Regions from separate parts of the Homo sapiens genome. Here region 2 is linked to region 1. A link means that fine-mapping ties the variant in region 1 to the expression of a gene that starts in the linked region. Tissue or cell type: liver. Region 1 holds a variant in brackets; the other region holds the start of a gene. All regions are shown on one strand. Distances are from middle to middle.

What was found. PIP is the estimated chance that this variant, and not a neighbour inherited with it, causes the effect.
Region 2: it holds the start of DYDC2, and the variant in region 1 is the best candidate, but not a certain one, in a credible set for the expression of DYDC2 in liver (GTEx, PIP 0.58).

What each region holds. Positions count from the first base shown.
Region 1 is chr10:80,392,151-80,396,390 of GRCh38, forward strand. No RefSeq gene overlaps it. Among named protein-coding and RNA genes, the nearest start is that of PRXL2A, 14 kb to the right of the region's middle. The variant T/C (reference allele first, on the strand shown) is at 1,811.
Region 2 is chr10:80,354,803-80,359,042 of GRCh38, forward strand. It overlaps DYDC2 (DPY30 domain containing 2), which reads left to right and starts at 1,979. Exons shown (of 5, transcript NM_032372.6): 1 at 1,979-2,023; 2 at 3,091-3,243. DYDC1 (DPY30 domain containing 1) reads right to left here and starts at 1,953. Exons shown (of 7, transcript NM_001269053.2): 1 at 1,910-1,953.

The sequences.
Region 1 (4,240 bases):
CCCTGTCTCTGCAAAAAGTTTAAAAAGTAGCCGGGCGTGGTGGCACATGCCTGAAGTCCCAGCTACTCAGAGAGGCAGAGGTGAGAGGATAGCTTGAGCCTGGGAGGTCGAGGTGGCAGTGAGCTATGATCATGTCACTGCCCTTCATCCAGCCTGGGCAACAGAGTGAGACCCTGTCTCAAAAAAACAAACAAAAACACATAAAATTGTTCCTAATCATATTTAAATGGTTACAGTTCAGTAATGTTAGATATGTTCTCATTGTTGTGCAACACATCTCCAAGTTTTTCGTGTTGCAAAACCGAAACTCTGTACTCATTAAACAACAATTCCCCATTTATCCCCTCCTCCCAGCCCCGGCAACTACTGTCTATTTTCTGTCTCTGTGATTGTTTTCTTTTTTTGAGACAGGGTCTCACCGTGTTGCTCAGGCTGGAGTGCAGTGGCGCAATCATGGTTCACTGCAGCCTCAAACTCCTGGGCTCAAGCTATCCTCCCACCTCAGCCTTCTGAGTAGTTAGGACTACAGGCATGCACCACAACACCCAGCTAATTTAAAAAAAAAAATCTGTAGAGATGGGGTCTCACTATATTGCCCAGGCTGGTCTCAACTTCCTGGCCTCTAGAAATTCTCCTGCCTTGGCCTCCCAAAGGACTGGGATTACAAGTGTGAGCCACCAATACCTGGCCTGATTTTGACTACTCTAGGTGCCTCATAAGATTCCACTCTAGGTGGACTCATACAGTATTTGCCTTTCTGTGATGAGCTTATTTCATTTAGCATAATGTTCTTATGATTCATCTATGTTGTAGTGTGTGTCAAAATTTCCTTCCTTTTTAAGGCTGAATAATATTCCATTTTGTGTGTGTGTGTGTGTGTGTGTGTGTGTGTGTGTGTGTAACATTTTGTTTATCCATTCATCTGTTGATAGATACTTGAGTTGCTTCCACCTCTTGGCTACTGTGAATAATGCTGCTATGAACATGGGTATGCAAATATCTCTTCGAGATCTGACTTGGCCTTTCAGGTTTAAAATGTAATGAATTTGTTTGCATATTTTAGTACTACTTATTTTTATTTTTATTATTATTATTATTTTTTTGAGACGGAGTCTCGCTCTGTTGCCCAGGCTGGAGTGCAGTGGCCTGATCTCAGCTCACTGCAAGCTCCTCCTCCCAGGTTCACGCCATTCTCCTGCCCTACAGCCTCCCTAGTAGCTGGGACTACAGGCGCCCGCCACCACGCCCGGCTAATTTTTTCTTTTTTCGTATTTTTACTAGAGACGGGGTTTCACTGTGTTAGCCAGGATGGTCTCAATCTCCTGACCTCGTGATCCGCCCGCCTCAGCCTCCCACAGTGCTGGGATTACAGGCGTGAGCCACCTCGCCCGGCTTTTTATTACTACTTATTACAAACAACAGGGCCGGGCACGGTGGCTCACGTCTGTAATCCCAGCATTTTCGGAGGCCGAGGCAGGTGGATCACCTGAGGTCAGGAATTCGAGATCAGCCTGGCCAAGATGGCAAAACCCCGTCTCTACTAAAAATACAAAAACTAGCTGGCTGTGGTAGCAAGTGTCTCTAGTCCCAGCTACTGGAGAGGCTGAGCCAGGAGAGTCACTTGAACCTGGGAGGTGGAGGTTGCAGTGAGCTGAGATGGCACCACTGAACCCCAGCCTGGGTGACAGAGTGAGATTTTGTCTCAAAAAAATAATAATGATAAAAATTGTAAAAATTAAACTAAAAAATAAAAACAATGGCCGGGCACAGTGGCTCATGCCTGTAATCTTAGCACTTTGGGAGGCCGAGG[T/C]GGGTGGATCACGAGGTCAGGAGTTCGAGATCAGCCTGGCCAACATGGTGAAACCTCATCTCTACTAAAAATACAAAAATTAGCTGGCGTGGTGGTGGGCGCCTGAAATCCCAGCTACTCGGGAAGCTGAGGCAGGAGAATAGCTTGAACCCAGGAGGCAGAGGTTGCAGTGAGTTGAGATCATGCCATTGCACTCCAGCCTGGGACAGAACGAGACTCCGTCTCAAAAAAAAAAAAAAAAAAATGAAAACAACAACATCACCAATCTTCTTGAAGAATGAACAAATTAAAATTAACACTTCAGATGCTGCAAGGAGGCATTCATTTTAGGAAGTGTAGACACTCAAAGCTAAGATTTTTGGCATTCAATAAAGTCCTAAAGCTGTACCACCAGAAGGAGCTAGAACAGTGCTAAACTTGGGCCCTGCAGAGAGGTCTGGCATTCTGCAGTATAATTATAAACTTCAGTCACAGCATTATCTAGGAAATCTTTTCAGTAGAGATAATGGGTGTCTATTAATGTAAGTAATTTGCTGGATAAGCCATGCATTGACTTGTTGGAAAATATCAGAGATTACATGCTAGGTGTGCAGAAAACATCCTTCAAACTCAGTCCTGCGTGCTGTCCCCCTGGGGGAAATCCATACATTCTCCCTTGAAAGAAAAGTTTGGTTTTCTCTCCTGAGTAGCATGGTTGAAAGGTCTGGCTGAGAATCAGACTTGCAGACATGTTTGGAATCATTGCCTCCTGCCCCTCCCAGCACAGTGACTCAGTGGGCCGTGGGTGATAGTTAAATGATTAATATTTTAGGTGTGCCTGCTAATTGGGGTGCAGTTAATCACAGAATCCTTTTTAAAGAAAAATGTAGTGAAAACTTGGGCTGATTCATCAAAACTTTCCTCTCTGGGTTCATTTCCACAATCTGAATGTCCATCCCAGAGCAGGACATGGGACATGGTTTGGCAGGACAGCCAAACCATTCTTCTCAATACCAATCACCAAACCTTTGCCTGAGAGTGTGGATATGAAGGGCACAGCCTCTACCCTTGAGATCCTTGTGCAGGGAGGAGGCAGAGAGAGGTAGGGAGTGTGCTAATAGACATAGGACCAAACTATGGGAGCCCAGAAGTGAACTAACTCAGGCAGAAAGTGAAGAAAGGCTTTACAAAGATAATATTTGACATGGCACTGATGGATGAGGAGGAGTTTTTTTGTTTTGTTTTGTTTGTTTTGTTTTGTTTTTGAGACGAGTCTCGCTCCGTTCCCCAGGCTGGAGTGCAGTGGCGCCATCTTGGCTCACTGCAACCTCCACCTCCAGGGTTCAAGTGATTCTCCTGCCTCAGCCTCCCGAGTAGCTGGGACTACAGGCGCCTGCCACCATGCCCGCCTAATTTTTGTATTTTTAGTAGAGACAGAGTTTCACCATGTTGGTCAGGCTTGTCTTGATCTCCTGACCTCAGGCAATCTGCCGGCCTCAGCCTCCCAAAGTGCAGGGATTACAGGCATGAGCCACCGCGCAAAAGCACAAGCAAGGGCAGTCTAGGCTGGAGGAACAGCATGTGTGCAAAGGCATCCAGGTGTTTGGAAACATGTAAGAAGGGCAATGTGGCTGAATAGCAGAGGGTATGTGAGATTGAGACCTGTGAAGGCCTCTTAATGAAATGTGAGTGCTCTAGAAAAGGGCCACAGTATCCCCTAAGAATCCCCACTAGGAGCCCTGGGTGGATCCATCCCCATTGCCAGCCACCCTGAGTATGCACAGTGTCTAATCAAAGAGAAGCCACAGGTCCAAGGGTGGAGAATAGGCGTCACTTTGCAGGCTACACGAGGGCCACTTTCATGGCAACTATCAGGGGGACAGGAACTCTAAATCACAAGACAGGAGACCCTGCCAGGCAAAAGCTTGGAGCTGATGTCCCCTCTGCTGAGGCTGAGGTGAGTGTGGAGAATGTCCACTTCTCAGGTCCTTCCTGCAGAAGCCCTGGCCACTCCAGCCACCTGAGGCTCACCAACATGCCTGGGATGCAGAAACAGTATCTTCTGGCTCCACACAGCTCTCTAGGTGTCCTGACAATGTGGCTATGAGGGGATGCTGTTGATCATTTATGACATCAGCAAGAGAACAGCAGGTAAGGTGCCTGGAGGCAGGTCAGAGCCTTTTGTCTTCTCTCAGAAGAACTGGCTGGTGGCAGCAGGGTGTTATCCAAAACAAGTTATTGATGGTTTGGGAAACAATGCTTTTTATTGTCCCAACCAACTCTTCTATCTGGGACACATGCTATCCTGAATGAGACACCAGGAAAAGAGACAAAAATTTGAAGTGTGTTAGACAAACCTAGACTCTCTCTACAATGCTGTTTTCCTCTAAATACTTTTAGACGAAAACTGAGAGTCTCTTGGGAGACCCTCTAGTGAATGGAGCAGCCTGT
Region 2 (4,240 bases), 37 kb before region 1:
AATGCCTTGATTTTAGACTTCCCAGCCTCCAGAATGGTGAGAAATAAATGTGTATTGTTTTTAAGCCACCCAGTGTTGGTAATTTGCTACAGCAGCGCAAACTAAAACAAAAACAGTCTCTGCCTTCATGGAGCTTATAGATGAGAAAGGAAGATAAATATTTAAATCAATAAATATGAAATTGCAGTTAAAATAAGTACTATGAGACCAGACAAGAGGAGTAGCTGATCAAGTCAGGAAAGTAAAAAAAAAGCTTCTTTGGGGGTGACATTTGAGCTAAGCTTACATTTACTGAAAAAAAAAAACAGTAAAATTAACACGACAAAGAAGAGAAGAGTCTTCTAGGTATGAGGAAAGGCCCTGATATAGGAATGAGCATGGCAATTACAGGGGATAGAATGCCACTGTGTCTAAACTTGTCCCTGGACAAATGCATCTAGCATTTTGCATAAAATTTCAGAGACAGTGACATCCTGGGGTCCGTCCATAACCCCCAATTTTTATTCTATGGATGAACCCCAGGATGTCAGTGTCTCTGAAATTTTATGCCATAACTATGTGCATATGCCATATGACAGTGGTGGGAGGGCAAAATGGTATAACTCCTATGGAGGAGAATTTGACAACATCTAGAAAATCACATATGCATTCACCCTTTGACTCATCAATCTTGCTTCTTGGATCCTATCTCAAAGATATAGTTGCAAAAATATGAAATGGCATATGCACACAGTTATTTGCAGCATTATTTACAATAGTCACACTGAAGCACCATCTAAATGTTCATCAAATTGGGGATTAATAAGAGCAACACAATGGATTATTATGCAGATGTACAAGAGAATGAAGAAACTAGAGAGTGATCTCTAAGACACAGAATAAAGAAAACGAGGTGCTGAAATTGTATATGGTCTGTCATCTTTTGTATTAGCAACAGCAGTGGGGAAAGGAATGTGTATGTGTGTATATGTAAACATAGTCATAAAAACTCTAAAAACGGAAAACAAACTGGCACAAATGAACCTAATTCCAAATGAGGTTGATATTGGTGTCTCAACCATACAGAGAAAAGAATTATTACAACTGACTTTGGAACACAGTATCTTCACTGTATTTCTTCAGTAGGATATACCTGAAAGACCAAAACGCTACACAGACATCTCAAAGTCATTTGAAGTGAAGTTAAAAAAAAAAAAAAAAAAAGGTGCACAGACTCCTGTTGCTGCTCCAGAAGGATAAAATGTGGGAAGGGAGGAAGGGGACCATTATCCCTAAAGAGAAAACTTCTGGCCTACCAGCGGGGCCAGGTCAGGGGAGGCTCTGTCTCGGATTTCTGGGCATATCAGTGGGACCCAGGCAAGGCCTGCCAACTCCCTTAGCATGTTCCTGTCTGTGAAACGAGGATAATACCCATCTCTCCTGTGGTAAGCAATGTTATTTTTCACATACACCAATAGGCATCTTGGCTCAACATAAGAAAGCCCTTTCCCACAGAAACAGCTGCCTCCAGCGTGAAGAAGGTGCCACAGAGATGGAAGGAGATTCCTTACCCACACCTGGGAGACAGCTAGCCAGCCAGCCAGCCAACTGGGCGGGGGCACCCGGGCAGGGGTGCCAGATACAGTATTGTATCTGGCAACCTCCCGGGGCGCTCAGTGTGGTTTTCCCACCCGGGAGTCTGGAAGGGTCTCCCGCAGCCCGCAGGAGACGCAGCGCTCCCCGCTCAGGGGGAGCAGGAGGACAGCTGGCCGCTTTCGGGAGCCCCAGGCGCGAAGCGGCCTCTCTCCGCCTCAGGTGAGTCCTGCTCGACGCCCAAGGCCCAACGGTCAGAACCGCCTCTGCCCGCCGGACCCAGCGAAGCTAGGGGAACAAATCCCAAAAACAGTTCGGGCCTTTCCGGTGCGCTCACCCCTACACACGCGCCTGCTCGCCACCCAGGAGCGGCGTCCCGTTGCCAGGCAACGAGAGCTCGCGCCTCAGGAGCCAGTGTAGGCGCCGCAAAGCGGAAGGGGCGCGCGGATAGGTGAGCAGAGGGCACGCGGTGGGCAGCGAAGGGGGAACGCGCAGCAGAGAGGAGAGGGCGTGCAGGAGTAGGAGCAGGCGGCAGAGTAGAGGGGGCGCGGCAGAGTAGAGGGGGCGCGGCAGAGTGGAGGGGGCGTGCAGGAGTAGGAGCCCGCCGCAGAGTAGAGGGGGCGCGGCAGAGAGGAGGGGGCGTGCAGGCGCGGGGCGCCCGGCAGAGAGAAGGGGTCGTGCGGAAGGGGGCGCGCGCCAGGGGAGGGGGCCAGAGAGGAGGGGGCGTTCAGGAGTCGGGCCTGCGGCAGAGATGAGGCGGTGTGCAGGAGGGAGAGCGCGCACGAGGGGGCAACGGGCAGAGAGGAGAGGGAATGAAAGAAGGGGAGCGTGGCAGAGAGAAGCGGGCGCGCTCCAGGGGGCGGGGTCCAGGGAGGAGGGGGAGCGTAGGATCGGGGCGGGAGGCAGAGAGGAGCGGGCACGCGGGACGGGCGTGTGCTCGTGAGGGGTCGAGGAAAGGCGTATGTGGAGGCGCGCGGGGTGGGTGAGCCGAGGAGACTTGCTACACAGAAACCTGGAGGAGTAGGGGCACACAAAAGAGCAAGGGACCCTGACTGGCAGCCCGGCATGCTCTGGGAGAGACAAAGAGGTGGCGGGCTTTGAGGAGGAACCAGGAAGGGCAGCCAATCGGAAAAGGGTGGAAGACCTTCCAGAGTCCCTGGAAGACCGTCACTGCAAGCTGCTAATAGCTTGGCAGTTTCACAACTCTGCACCTTTGCTCTTGCTGGTGACCTCTGCTTGGTTCCTTTCAGAACCAATTCGGGTGCCCCACCACCGGGAAGCCGTCCAGTCTCCACCAGGCCCAAACCCTTGCAGTCTTCCCTGGCCTAGTCGTCTGTGCATGTGCTAGCCTTTCCTGTGCTCTCTTTCAGCTTATGGGCGGGGCAGTGCCAGGCAAGAGAGGCCTTAATAGATGTTAGTTGAGCTAGTAAATGCCAGATTGGGCGTGGAAAAATCAAAGGGAAGCATGAGGGCAGGTGGCAGAACTCTCTCAATGAATAAGTCAAGAAATATTTACAGAGCTCCCAGTGTGCCAAGCGTGGGCGGTATACAGTAAACAAAGACAACCCCTATTCTTATCACCTTGCCTACTGAGTGCAAGTCCAGGAACTGTGTAAGCAGACCCTCAGAGGAGCTCTGGGAAACACTGAAAAATAGCCTCTCCCCCCATTGGTGAGTGTACCCTAAGTTGGTCTGAGTGGGCTTTAAAAGGCATCCCCTTGGCCAGGCGCGGTGGCTCACCGCCTGTAATCCTAGCACTTTGGGAGGCGGAGGTGGGCGGATCACCTGAGGTGAGGAATTCAAAACCAGCCTGGCCAACATGGAGAAACCCCATCTCTACTAAAAATACAAAAATTAGCCAGGTGTGGTGGCGCACACCTGTAATCCCAGCTCCTCAGGAGGCTGAGACAGCGGAATTGCTTGAACCAAGGAGGCAGAGATTGCAGTAAGACGAGATTGTGCCACTGCACTCCAGCCTGGGCGACAGACCAAGGCTCTCTCTTAAAAATAAAAAATAAAAGGCATCCCCTTGACTCCTTCCCCTCCAGCCCTCAGATTATGGCTCTATGCTGGCTCTACTGTCTTTGTACCATATTTTAGCGACTGTTGGGCAAACACATTTCCTTCAGATCATTGTTGAAAATGGGCAATTTAGAGTAGGGGGAGGTATGCCAATACGGCTTGCCACATGTAACCAGTGTGGCAGCCACCCCCTGACTAGAGAATGCAGAGTTGGTGATTCTGCCTTCGGGGAAGGACAGTTCTACAGTGATCCAGGCAAAGTAGATTGGTAACTACAGGTCGCTTGGAGATTTTATTAACATGCAGGTTCTGAATCTGTGGTGGGACCTGAGATTCTGCATCTCAACAAGTCCCAATGTGTCCAGAATTGGTGGGTTCTTGGTCTCACTGAGTTCTAGAATGAAGCCGTGGACCCTCACAGTGAGTATTACAGTTCTTAAAGGCGGCGTGTCCAGAGTTCGTTCCTTTTGATGTTCGGATGTGTTCAGAGTTTCTTCCTTCTGGTGGGTTGCTGGTCTCCCTTCAGAAGTGAAGCTGCAGACCTTTGCAGTGAGTGTTACAGCTCATAAAGGCAGTGCAGACCCAAACAATGAGCAGCAGCAAGATTTACTACAAAGAGCAAAAGAACAAAGCTTCCAGTGTGGAA